2 linked regions of the Homo sapiens genome follow. The protein of the gene in region 2 purifies or fractionates together with the protein of the main gene of each other region. This does not show direct contact. Each region holds a gene or a part of one and is shown on either strand. Other genes may lie near its edges.

Region 1 (7,290 bases), on a different chromosome or scaffold from region 2:
AGAGGGTGGCTTCCCTAATCCCAAGTGGGTTTTGATTGAGTCCTGTTTTAGCTCCCTCTCTCTCTCCAGAGCTCATTGGGCTTTTTGTTGCTTAGTTAGATGAGCCATAGACAAGGAGTTTGAGACCTGGGTTTTAGCAACTGCTCTGCTAAAACTGGCTGATCTTGTGGAAGATAAACCTCATTGAGTCTTAGTTTGTGCTTTTTTTAAAGTGAGATATTTAGTTAGACTAGTGATTTTCAAACTCTTTTTCCTAGTAGCAAGACTCTTTGTACGAAGAAAATCTTATCTGGATGCCCAACCCAGACAAGAGAGGTTAAGAGTCATTCTGGTTGACTTTGAAGGTGGACTGTCTTTTCTCCCATTGTGGCCATAGTGAAAGTGACTCTGTCTAAAATTTAGTGTATTTTTTCCCCCCAAAGATGGATAATGTGTTAATGGGACGATGTGAGAAGGATAAGAGGTAAGGATGTGGGAGTGAGCAAGGTGACAGATCATAGGCTATGCTTTTTCATATAAAAAATGAAGATGGGTATTACAGAAGATATTACTAAATTGTTTCTCTGAAAAGTCTTATAACTTATGACATGAAACTACATTAAATTATATGTGTCAACTTCAAAACATTACAGTACCTGAAGTGGACACTGCTTTGGCTGTATGACCCCAGTAAGGTAGGGTCAGATGGGCATCTAGGGGACTGGCTTTTCCTGCTTATCTAAGTGATAGAAGTTTTCACTGTTAAAACTTCATTTTATTGCTCTTATTTTTGTCACAAGTCCTTATGAGCTTGGTTGGGTGAAGGGTCACCCAGAAAAGAACCAGCTTCCACTTTCTTTAATTATGCAAACTAGAGCTAGGTGACTGAGAACTTGCTTTTGGTCTGCAAGACATAGGGAGTTTTGCAAGCCCCAAGGGAGTCCAGAATTTCCTGAACATGTTGCAAGGTGGCTGGATGGCTTTCTTCTGAAGTCATGCAATATTGTCCTTCACTTTGGTTATGACTGCAGAGGTGCTGGGAAGCAAAATGAAAACTATCACCTTGAAGCAGGCTTTTCTTCATAGGCCCCAGAGGTGAGGCCAGCTCATTTAAAGGGAATGGCTTGTGCTGCTGCTTTCATCTAAAGGTATTTTGATCCAATTCCACCTCCCAGCTCCTTTATTGGTAATGTTTTCCAAAACACAGTATTTTTGCTGAGGGAAGGACAGGCAAAGGCCTGAACATTTAGAGAGTAGAAAACTGGCTGGGTGTGGACCTTTTACAAAAGTTCATATTTTGCTAGTTTAATTTGGAAAAGGACACATGAATTCTCACAGAAAATGAGCTTTATTGGGGAACAATACATTTCATGAAGGCATTTCTTTATCAGGAATCACACAGGCAGCCCCACGCAGTCACTGCCCCACACCTTATCCTTCAGCTTGTGCTGCACAGGAGAGGAGTGGCTGGGATTCCTGACTAGGGCTTTGATGAGAGTGCATGCACACTGGAGCATGCTTCTTGGCCTGGATGGCAAAGTCCCAGGAGCCAGTCCTAACTCAGACTCTGGCCTGCCTAGGTACATTTCAGATGAAAGTCACCCCTGCTCCTTGCCCCACCCTCAGTCCAACAAAAATGTGCTTCTAGAAATGCTTACTTTTCTTTTTCTACGAAGGGCTTATAATGTGAGGCTACTAAAGATTTTCAGATTTCAGAATAGTACCACTTACCTTGGGCTAGGTTAATTTTTTAGAGAATTGATCTTGTCCCCTAATGAGTAGGAAGATCAACTGGTTTTTGGACATGACTATAAGCAGAAGATGCTAAATAATACCTTAAAAAGACTCCACTGGCCAGGTGCGGTGGTTCACTCCTGTAAACATTTTTTAATTTTTGTGGGTACATAGTAGATGTATATATTTATGGGTTACATGAAATATTTTGGTACAGGCATGCAATGTGTAATAATCACATCAGGATAAATAGGGTTTCCATCATCTTAAGCACTTATCCTTTGTGTTACAAACAATCCAGTTATACTCTTCAGTTATTTTAAAATTTTATTTTTTGAGACAGTCTCACTCTATTGCCTAGGCTGGAGTGCAGTGCCACAATCATGGCTCACTGAAGCCTTGACCGCCTGGTCTCAGGTGATCTTCACCCTCCTGAGTAGCTGGGACTATAGGCGTGTGCCACCATGCCCGGCTAATTGTTTACTTTTTTGTAGAGATGGGGTCTCCCTATGTTGCCCAGGCTGGTCTCAAACTCCTGGGCTCAAGTCATCCTCCCACCTCAGTCTCCCAAAGTGCTGGGATTACAGGCGTGAGCCACCGTGCCCGGCCAGGGAGCTCTTTCAGATTGGCTCCTGTGTCTGTCTGACATGCTTCTATCCTTTTGTTTTTGAGCACTTGCTTAGTTTCTGGTACTACAAGATGCTCCAGGCTTATCTTGCATTTTTTTGGCTCTAGCCTTAGAACCTAGCTATTTTCTCAAGAAGCCTGGGTTCTTTTCTATTGGAAAATATTTAGAAACCAAAATCCAGCACAGTACTTTGAACTGAATTCTGCTTCAGTCCTCCCAAACTAACATAAACTTGGCAGAAGTGTATGGGAGGCAGATGCAGCACCCTCCCAAAGCAGCTGGCCCTGTGGTGACTTGGTGGCAGTTGTCCACTTGGATCCTTAGTTTCTATACTGAGCTACTGGCTCCTCACCTGAGGTCTCTAGACTTGTAGGGCATGTGAGATAACTGAAGAGATATCTCTGGGCACAGAGAGGGAAGAAGTGGAGATACAGCAGCTTCCCTCATTTTTTAATTTTTAATTTTTGAGACAGTGTCTTGCTCTGTCACCCAGGCTGGAGTGCAGTGGTGCAATCTTGGCTCCCTACAACCTCTGCCTCCTGGGCTCAAGTGATCCTCCCACCTCTGACTCCTGAGTAGCTGGGACTCCAGGCATACACCGCCATGCCTGGCTAATTTTTTTTATTTTTGGTGGAGACAGGGTTTTGCTATGTTGCCCAAGTTGGTCTCAAACTCCTGGACTCAAGCAATCAGCCCATCTTGGCTTCCCAAAGTGCTGGGATTACAGGTGTGAGCCCCTGTGCCTGGCTAGCTTCTTTTTCTCTTTACCCTAGGTCACTAGGTCAGAGAGAGAGAGGCCCTGTTATAATCTTTGACTTTTAATAGCTTTATTAAGGTATAATTTATACACATAAACTTTACCTGTTTTAAGTGCATAAATCAATTATTTTTAAAGTTTATAAAGTTGTGCAAAAATGGCTGGGTGTGGTGGCTCACGCCTGTAATCCCAGCGCTTTGGGAGGCCGAGGCAGGAGGATCACCTGAGGTCAGGAGTTCGAGACCAGCCTGACCAACCTGGAGAAAACCTGTCTCTACTAAAAATACAAAATTAGCCGGGCATGGTGGCACATGCCTGTAATCCCAGCTACTCAGGAAGCTGAGGCAGGAGAAATGCTTCAACCCAGGAGGCGGAGGTTGTGGTGAGCTGAGATCGCGCCATTGCACTCCAGCCTGGGCAACAAGAGTGAAACTCCATCTCACACACACACACACACACACACATAAAAGTTGTGCAAAAATTACAACTTAGTTTTGGAACATTTTTGTCACCCCCAAAAGATCCCTTGTGCCCATCTGCAGGCAATCCATGTTTTCACATCAGACCCATGCAACTGCTAATTTAGTATATGCCTTTTCTGGACTGTAAATGGAAACATACCATATGTGGGATATTGCATCAGACTTCTTTCACTAAGCATAATGTTTTGAGATGCATCCATATTGTAGCCTATATCACTACTCCATTGTATACATATATCATTTAAAGAAATCCACCAGTTAAAAAAAAAAAGAAAAAGAAATAATCTGGGTATGTTGGTGCCTGCCTGCAGTCCCAGTTACTGAGGAGGCTGAGGCAGGAGGATTGTTTGAGCCCAGGAGTTTGACTTCAGAGTATGCAACATAGTGAGGCCTCATCTCTTAAAAAAAAAAAAAAAATCCAGTAGTTGATGGTCATTTGGTTTCCACTTTTTGACTAATATGAATGATAATGCTATGAACATTTGCCTACGAGTCTTGATGTGAACACATTTCCACTTCTCTTCTCATGGAATAGCAGGATCATATGGTAAACTTATGTTTATCTTTTTAAGAAACTGCCAAACTGTTTTCCAAAGTGGCTGCACCATTTTACATTCCCACCAGCAATGCATTAGGGCTCCAGTTTCTCCACATCATCACCAACACATATCTTTGTCTGTCTTTTTTATTATAGTCATTTTAGTGGGTCCAAAATGGTATCTAATTTTGCTTTTAACTTGTATTTTCCTAATGACTAGTGATAGTACACATCTCTTCATATGCTAAGCAATTTGTATATCTTTGCTGAAATATCTATTCAAACATTTTGTCCATTTTTAAGTTGTCTGCCTTATTTTTGAGTTTTAAGAATTCTTTACATAGTCTAGATACAAGTCCTCTATCAGATACTTATTATGGTTTGAAAATATTTTCTCCCAGTCTGTGATTTTTCAATTAATTTTTTTTTTTTTTTTTTTTTTTGAGACAGGGTCTCACTCTGTCACCCAGGCTCTAGTGCGGTGGTGTGATCTTGGCTCACTGCAACCTCTGCCTCCCAGGGTCAAGAGATCCTCCCACCTCAGCCTTCTGAGTAGCCAGGACTACAGGAGCACGCCACCATGCCTGGTTAATTTTTGTATTTTTTGTGGAGATGGCATTTTGCTCTGTTGTCCAGTCTGGTCTCAAATTCCTGAGCTCAAGTGGTCCACCCTCCTTGGCTTCCGAAAGTGCAGGGATTTCAGATGTGAACCACCTCCCCGGGCCAATTAATTTTCTTAATAGTTTTTTGAAACAAAATTTTATATTTTAATGAAGTCCAATTTATTAATATTTTCTTTTATGAATTGTGCTATTAGTGTCTTAAGAATTCTTCCTAAACCAAGGTCATCTAGGTTTTCTCCCATGTTTTCTTCTACATGTTTTATAGTTTTAGCTCTTACATGTAGGTGTGTGATCAATTTTGAGTTTATTTTTGCATATGGTAGGAGGTAAGAATCTAAATTAATTTCTTCTGCATTTGATATCCAAATATCCTAGCACTATTTGTTGAAAAGACCATCTTTTCTCCATAATTTCATTGGGATTTTTGTCAAAACTTAATTGATCATAAATGTGAAGGTTTATTCCTGGACTCTGTTCCACTGATCTGTATGCCTATCTTTATATCAGTACCACACTGTCTTGATTAATGTAGCTTTGTAGTAAGTTCTGGATCAGAATTATTTCTTCATTTTCAGAATTATTTTGGCTATTCTGAATCCTTTATGTTTTCATACAGATTTTAAGATTGGCTTGTCAATTTTTCAAAAAAGCCTGCTGTGATTTTGATAGGGATTGCATTGTAGATTAATTTGGGGAGAACTGCTATCTTAACAACATTTGATCTTCCAATTCATGAACATGGATTGTGTCTACATTTCTTGATACCTTCTTTAATCTCTCTGAATTTTTCTTTTTCTTTTTTTGAGACAGGGTCTTGCTCTGTTGCCCAGGCTGGAGTGCACTGGCACAGTCACAGCTAACTGCAGCCTCAACCTCCCAAGCTCAGGCAATCCTCCCAATGTAGCCTCTCAAGTAGCTGGGACTACAGGTGTGCAGCACCATGCCTGGCTAGTTTTTTAAAATTTAATAATTATTTTTTTTATTATACTTTAAGTTCTGGGTTACATGTGCAGAACATGTAGTTTTGTTACATAGGTATACACATGCCATGGTGGTTTGCTGCACCCACCAACCTGTCACCTACATTAGGTATTTCTCCTAATGTTATCCCTCCCTTAGCCCCCCACCCCCCACAGGCCCTGGTGTGTGATGTTACCCTCCCTGTGTCCATGTGTTCTCATTGTTTAACTCCCACTTATGAGTGAGAACATGCGTTGTTTGGTTTTCTGATCTTGTGATAGTTTGCTGAGAATGATGGTTTCCGGCTTTATCCATGTCCCTGCAAAGGACATGAACTCATCCTTTTTTATGGCTGCATAGTATTCCATGGTATACATGTGCCACATTTTCTTAATCCAGTCTATCATTGACGGGCATTTGGGTTGGTTTCAAATCTTTGCTATTGTGAATAGTGCAGCAATAAACATACGTGTGCATGTGTCTTTATTGTAGAATGATTTATAATCTTTTGGGTATATGCCCAATAGTGGGATTGCTGGGTCAAATGGTATTTCCAGTTCTAGATCCTTGAGGAGTCGTCACACTGACTTCCACAATGGTCGGACTAATTTGCACTCCCACCAACAGTGTAAAAGCGTTCCAATTTTTCCACAACCTCTCCAGCATCTATTGTTTCCTGATTTTTAATGATCGCCATTCTAACTGGCATGAGATGGTATCTCACTGTGGTTTTGATTTTCATTTCTCTAATGACTAGTGATGATGAGCATTTTTTCATATGTCTGTTGGCTGCATAAATGTCTTCTTTTGAGAAGTATCTGTTCATATCCTTTGCCCATTTTTTGATGGGGTTGTTTGCTTTTTTCTTGTAAATTTGTTTAAGTTCTTTGTAGATTCTGGATATTAGCCCTTTGTCAGATGGATATATTGCAAAAATGTTCTCCCATTCTGTAGGTTGCCTGTTCACTCTGATGATAGTTTATTTTGCTGTGCAGAAGCTCTTTAATTAGAACCCATTTGTCAATTTTGGCTTTTGTTGCCATTGCTTTTGGTGTTTTAGACATGAAGTCTTTGCCCATGCCTATGTCCTGAATGGTATTGCCCAGGTTTTCTTCTAGGATTTTTATGGTCCTAGGTCTTACGTTTAAGTCTTTGTTCCATCTTGAGTTGATTTTTGTATAAGGTGTAAGGAAAGGGTCCAGTTACAGTTTTCTGCATATGGCTAGCCCGTTTTCCCAACACCATTTATTAAATAGGGAATCTTTTCCCCATTGCTTGTGTGTGTCAGGTTTGTCAAAGATCAGATGGTGGTAGACGTGTGGTGTTATTTCTGAGGCCTCCATTCTGTTCCATTCGTCTGCATATCTGTTTTTGTACCAGTGCCATGCTGTTTTGGTTACTGTAGGCTTGTAGTAAAGTTTGAAGTCAGGTAGTGTGATGCCTCCAGCTTTGTTCTTCTTGCCCAGGATTGTCTTGGCTAGGTGGGCTCTTTTTTGGTTCCATATGAATCTTAAAGTAGTTTTTTCCAATTCTGTGAAGAAAGTTAGTGGTAGCTTGATGGGGATAGCATTGAATCTATAAATCAGTTT
Region 2 (5,364 bases):
TCCCAGCTGGGCTTGTGTTCCTCTCCTGGGCTGGCTGCATGTGCGGTGGGCTGAGTCCTTGCCACTATCCGACTTAATCTCTTCTTTTAGATTATCACAAGGCAGCCATGGGTCTGGGGGCCCGGGGCTTGCTGCTCTCACGGGAGAACGAGGATCAGGTGGTCAAGGTGCTGCACGATGCCCAGCAGCAGTGCCGAGACGGCCACCCGGTTGTGGTCAACATCCTCATTGGGAGGACGGACTTCCGCGATGGCTCCATTGCTGTATAGGGCCTTGTGGGTCAGGACGCTTGGCTGCCTTCCTGCCCCTGGACTGTGTCCAGCTGGTTTGGAGTCTCATCATTGCTTGCCCTGGGCCTATCCCATGAGGCCCAGTGACTCCACAACCTCCCTGAGGAGGGGATGGAGGGGTCAAATCTCAGAGAGGCTCTCTTGTGAGCTCTTGGACCCTCCTCTTCACGGACCCAACTGTGCCGTTTGTCCCCTCTCTTATGGAGACTGAATAAACCACCTCTGGCCCATGTAGGCCCAAGTACTCAGTCTCAGAACCTGTGCATATTTATTTATTATCCACAAAGATGGAGGTGCGGAAAAGAAGAGGGAGACAGGAGGGAACCGTACTCTCCCACTGGAACTCTGGGGCCCACTGAGGCACCATTATTGGGGATTTCAGGGTGGCTGGGCACTGCAAACTGCTCCCTCCTCTGTGGTCCCTGAAAGAGCCCCACACGCCTGCTTCAGACGTGTCCACGCACACCAGTCCTCACAGACACACACACACATGCATGGAGGCAATAAATATGTTCCGTACCAGACTGCCCCCAGCCTGACGCTTCAGGGGGCCCCCTCCAAAAGGGAGGGGTTTAAGTGCTCAATTTTTTTCGGGGGGGGGGGCAAGGGGGGGGCAAGGAGATGGGGATTGGAAAGGCCAGACTCTGTTATCTCCATTTGCTGACTAGAGGCCAATCGTGGGGACTTCCCCGGAAAAGGGTAGGGGAAACCAGCTGTTTCTCTATAAGCCCCAGGCTACCCCTGTGTCCATGCTGGAACCCAGGATAGGGGCTGCCCCCCACAAACAGTGCCTCATGCTAGTCTTTGTGTCGTCCAAGGGAGGGAGAAACAGTGCAGTGCTCAAAGCTAATACTGATTTGGTTGGCAGCAGCAAGAGGGCCGACTAGAGGTGACTCACCACACCAGGGTGATGCTCACAGTAACTGGTGTTGCCCCGGCCAAGGGGAGGCAAGAGAGGCCAGCCTAGCAAGCGCGAGAACTACCTTTTTGGCAACAAAAGGGGAAGCCCTTGGTGCTCAGGAAAGATGGTCACAACCGCTGGTCCCTAAAATCCCCAGGCCCCAGACTTGGCAACTAGTGTCCAAATACCGGGCCCTGGAAACTGGGAATGAGTCTCAGCCATACACGCGACTGGTCCCGTGGTAACTCGCTGGCAACCAGGAGCTCGGCCTGAGCAACAGGTCTGGCTCTCCTTGGTCACCAGGGCACCGCCTTAGCCACTGGGCGCCCGGTCCTTACTAACCGGGGTCCCACCCCGTCATCTGGCTCAGAGGCACACGTTGATTTGCTTGGAGAGCTCTCTCTCCAGATCCAGGATGAGGGCGTCGAAGTCTTTGAGATTCAGGTGCGGGTTGAAGGGCGCATCGAAGTCGTCTTCGAAGTCACCGGTGACCCTCGGCTCGCCGACCTCCTCGTCCTCGTCCTCGCTGTCACTGCCCGTCACGTGGTCGTAGTCTGGCCCGGACAGGAAATCCCGCCCACAGGGCAGGAAGTCCCGCCCGCAAACGCTCCAGTCGCCGGCGTAGCGGTTGCTCGGGGGGCTTTCGGGGCCTCCTCGACCGCGGGGCCGAGTCACCACTTCGGGGTCTGCCAGCGGCAGGTGCAGAGGTGGCTGTCGTTTGGGTCGCAAGTAAGGCGCGACATCTGGAGATTGTCGGGGCAGGCGGGGATCTGAAGGGAGACAGGGTAGGTCATAGAAAGAGGCGACAGCCGACCTCTGATTGGCTGCTTAGGGAACTAGGCTCCTGATTGGCCTGTGGAAAGCGGCCTTCGACCCTTTCAGGTTTTCACTGGCAGAGCTAGGACTGGTTGCTTACGCAACTAGGCCTCTGATTGGCATGTCAAGAGGCAGGGCCTCTGACTGCATCAAAGATGGGTAGGGGCAGGTCTGTGGATCATGCCTGGATCATGCCTGTAATCCCAGCACTTTGGGAGGCCTGAGGCAGGCGGATCACTTGAGGTCAGGAGTTCAAGACCAGCCTGGCCAACACCGTGAAGCCCCATCTCCACTAAAAATACAAAAATTAGCTAGGATTGGTAGTGCATGCCTGTAATCCCAGCACTTTGAGAGGCCTGAAATGGGTGGATCACTTGAGGTCAGGAGTTCAAGACCAGCCTGGCCAACACAGTGAAACCCTGCTCTACTTAAAATATAAAAATTAGCCAGGACTGGTGGTGCGTGCCTATAATCCCAGCTACTCGGGAGGCTGAGGTGGGAGAATCCCTTGAACCTGGGAGGCAGAGGTTGCAGTGAGCTGAGATCATGCCACCACACCCCAGCCTGGGCTAGAGAGCAAGACTCCATCTCAAAAAAAATAAAAAATAAAAATAAAAAGATGAATCAGCTCTGTGGGGCAAGGTGATTTGGTTTATAATCCCAGTACTTTGGGAGGCTGAGGCGGAAGGATGGCTTGAGATCATGCGTTTGAGACCAGCTTGGGCAATATAGAGAAACCCTGTCTTTACAAAAAAATGAAAATAAAAAAAGACAAAACAGACAGATTGGTTGGATCTGAACTGGTTGCTGAGGCAACCAGGTACCAGTTTACTCCATGAGGGGGCGTAGCTTCAAGCCTAAGACACTGATTGGTCCCTTAAGGTGGCATCACTGTAGCAGCCTGGCTCAGATTGGTGGTGCAGGCCCTGGGCATGAACTCACCTGGCCAAGACTGCAGCAGGTAGTGCAGCACCTCGATGTGGTGCTTGAAGTCCACTGCACTGGCAAGGCCTGGGCCGGAGCTGCGGGCACGAGGCCTTGTGGGCGCCTGGCGTGCCGGCAGCAGCACAGGCCCGAAGCACACGGCCAAGTTCTGTGGGGTCATGCGGTTGTAGGCATGGAAGGAGGAGACGAGGCGCAGGTGGTCCAGGAGAAGCGTCAGCGTGGCCTGGGAGAGGGTTGAGAGGATGTAAGTCAGACAAAGTCAGGCCCCTGTGGCACCTACCTGCAAGAGACTAAGGTGGCTAGAGTAGGGAAGCAGGTTCACAGTCTCATAGCTGGGATGTGGTCGGGTTAAGACTATTAATCATTAGATGTTAGTATTATGAGCCTATTTTGTTGGAGGGAAGACTGAAGCCAAAGGCAACTAAGCATTGGAAAAGCAGAGCTGCCATGAATCTCATTTTACAGATGAAGATATTGAAGCACAGAGAGGGATGGGACTTGTCTAGGTTCCCTCAGCCAGGAACCTCCCTTGTAGGTTGAAAGATCAGCGTTCAGCCTGCATTTTTGACACATCCTGGCTGTGTGACCTTGGGCAACTGTCACCTGCTTTGGGCCTCAGTTTCCAAATCTATGAAGTGGGATGCTAATAGCACCTATTTCTTGGGGATATGATGATGCTGCCAGCTCATGCCCATCTCAGGCCCAGGCATGGGTGAAACATTCTATTGGTATCAGCCCACTCTCAAGTCCCATCACTCCCACCAGGCCCAACTCACCCTTTCCACATCTGGCAGGCAGCTGAGGAGCCCTCGGGTGCCCTCAGTGGTGGGGGGAACTCTGTTTGGGGGGTCCCGGGCCATGGCCTCCAGTACCACCTTATACAGGGGCTGGGTGATGAGTGGGGTGGGCAACTCTCGAAGATAATCCTTGAGGATGCCTGTGAACACAGGGTCCCCTCTGGTCAGGGCACCACTGGCTTCTAAGGCTAAGGAGGGCACAGCTAAGGGGGAAGAGGAGGTGGGTGAAAGCAAGGTCAGATAGGAGGACTGAGGTCCCAGAGGAGCCCCAAGGCCTTGAAGTGAGGCATTGAATGGGGGTGAGCAGGCAGGGGAGAGGGGGCCATGCTGACCAGTGATGACATTGATATCGGGGTACAGGTCCTCAGATAGGCAGACCGCTGCACTGTCCCGCTCAAAGGCATCCCGAAGCTCTTTCTTCACTGCCGCTGAGCCACAAAGACGGTACAGTCCCACTACCTGGGGGTGGGAAGAGAGAGTGAATGTCTTCTTGCCGGGGCCACAGACTAATCAGGGCCCAGTGGGGTGAGCACTGGAATTCTGGGCCAGGCAGCAATGGGCATTGTGGGCTGGGAGGTTGGAACTACCTTGACAACCTGGCCTTGTAAACCCTCTGCTTGGACTACTTGTCTTGGCTGCCATCTCCTTTGACTTAGGAAACTGACACTTCTTTGAGGAGGCTTTCCATGACTACCCCAGGTTTTGTTTTAAGCTCTCCCAGACCCTAGGTACACCCCACCCCAACTCCAGTCCCAGTTATAGTTTTACATTTGTGAATGACTAGAGTCGTATCTTTTCCCCCATCAGACTCTGAGCCCCAGGAGGGCTTGGATCCTGTTTTTAAATCAATGGATGACCCATGGGTTCTGCCCAGGGTGCTACAGTCAAGGGGGCGCCTTCTGCCCTTGTCTAGGTTGGGATTGGAGCTAGGAGTGGCTCAGGCCTGGGGGTAGGGGTCTGGCATCTGTACATAGGGTGTCCTGAAGAGTGGTCTGAGGTCTGGGGGCCAGAGGGTTGGGGTGGGGTGGGTGCTCACCCGCAGCCCTCGGCGCTCGATCTGCCCAACGCACTTCTGGATGATGAGGGGCACCTGGCCGGGGGGCCGCTCCCGCTCCACCAGCAGTGGCAGGGGCAGCCCAAAGACGCGGGGCTCAGCTGTGGCAGGGGCTTCCTGCTGCTCCGACAGGGTCAGCTTGGCATACAGCAGCCCCTGAGGCTCCAGGCGCACGGCCAGCTGTTGGGCCTGGCACCCTGAGGACACAAGGGGGCCTGAGCCGGGTGTGCTCTGAAGCTTCATGTACCCTGGCCTCGCTGCTCCAGGCCACACCTTCCGCCCGGAGCCCAGCCCCCTAGGCACTCTGCGGGGGGTGGCGGTGGGGTTTGGGGGTCCCTGCCCCTCCTCCCCTGCAGCCGCATGTCCTACCTCGGAAGACCGTGGGCAGCAGCACGGTGCCCTGGGCACAGGGCCGGTGCCTTCTCACGCCAGGGTCCCACGCAAGCACCAGGGCGCGCAGGAGCCTGGCGGCCTCCAGCTCCAGGTGGAAGGTGTGGTCCAGCCGCAGGAAGTCCGGCCCCCCTCGCAGTGGCCCTGTTCGGGCCCTGGCCTCCCCATCCA

What was found.
Region 1: the proteins of SYDE1 (region 2) and RPAP2 purify together in Homo sapiens (affinity purification with mass spectrometry; 2 studies listed by BioGRID and IntAct, with this or other methods). This does not show direct contact.

Annotation. Positions count from the first base shown.
Region 1 is NC_000001.11:92,392,907-92,400,196, reverse strand, and holds part of RPAP2 (putative RNA polymerase II subunit B1 CTD phosphatase RPAP2), read right to left. Parts: 3' UTR 1-7,290.
Region 2 is NC_000019.10:15,110,157-15,115,520, reverse strand, and holds the end of SYDE1 (rho GTPase-activating protein SYDE1), read right to left. Parts: coding exon 5,173-5,364; intron 5,001-5,172; coding exon 4,786-5,000; intron 4,209-4,785; coding exon 4,082-4,208; intron 3,890-4,081; coding exon 3,729-3,889; intron 3,176-3,728; coding exon 2,950-3,175; intron 1,962-2,949; coding exon 1,558-1,961; 3' UTR 547-1,557; downstream 1-546. Other genes in the region: HACL2 (2-hydroxyacyl-CoA lyase 2), read left to right, coding at 91-269. UniProt on the Homo sapiens protein: GTPase activator for the Rho-type GTPases. As a GCM1 downstream effector, it is involved in placental development and positively regulates trophoblast cells migration.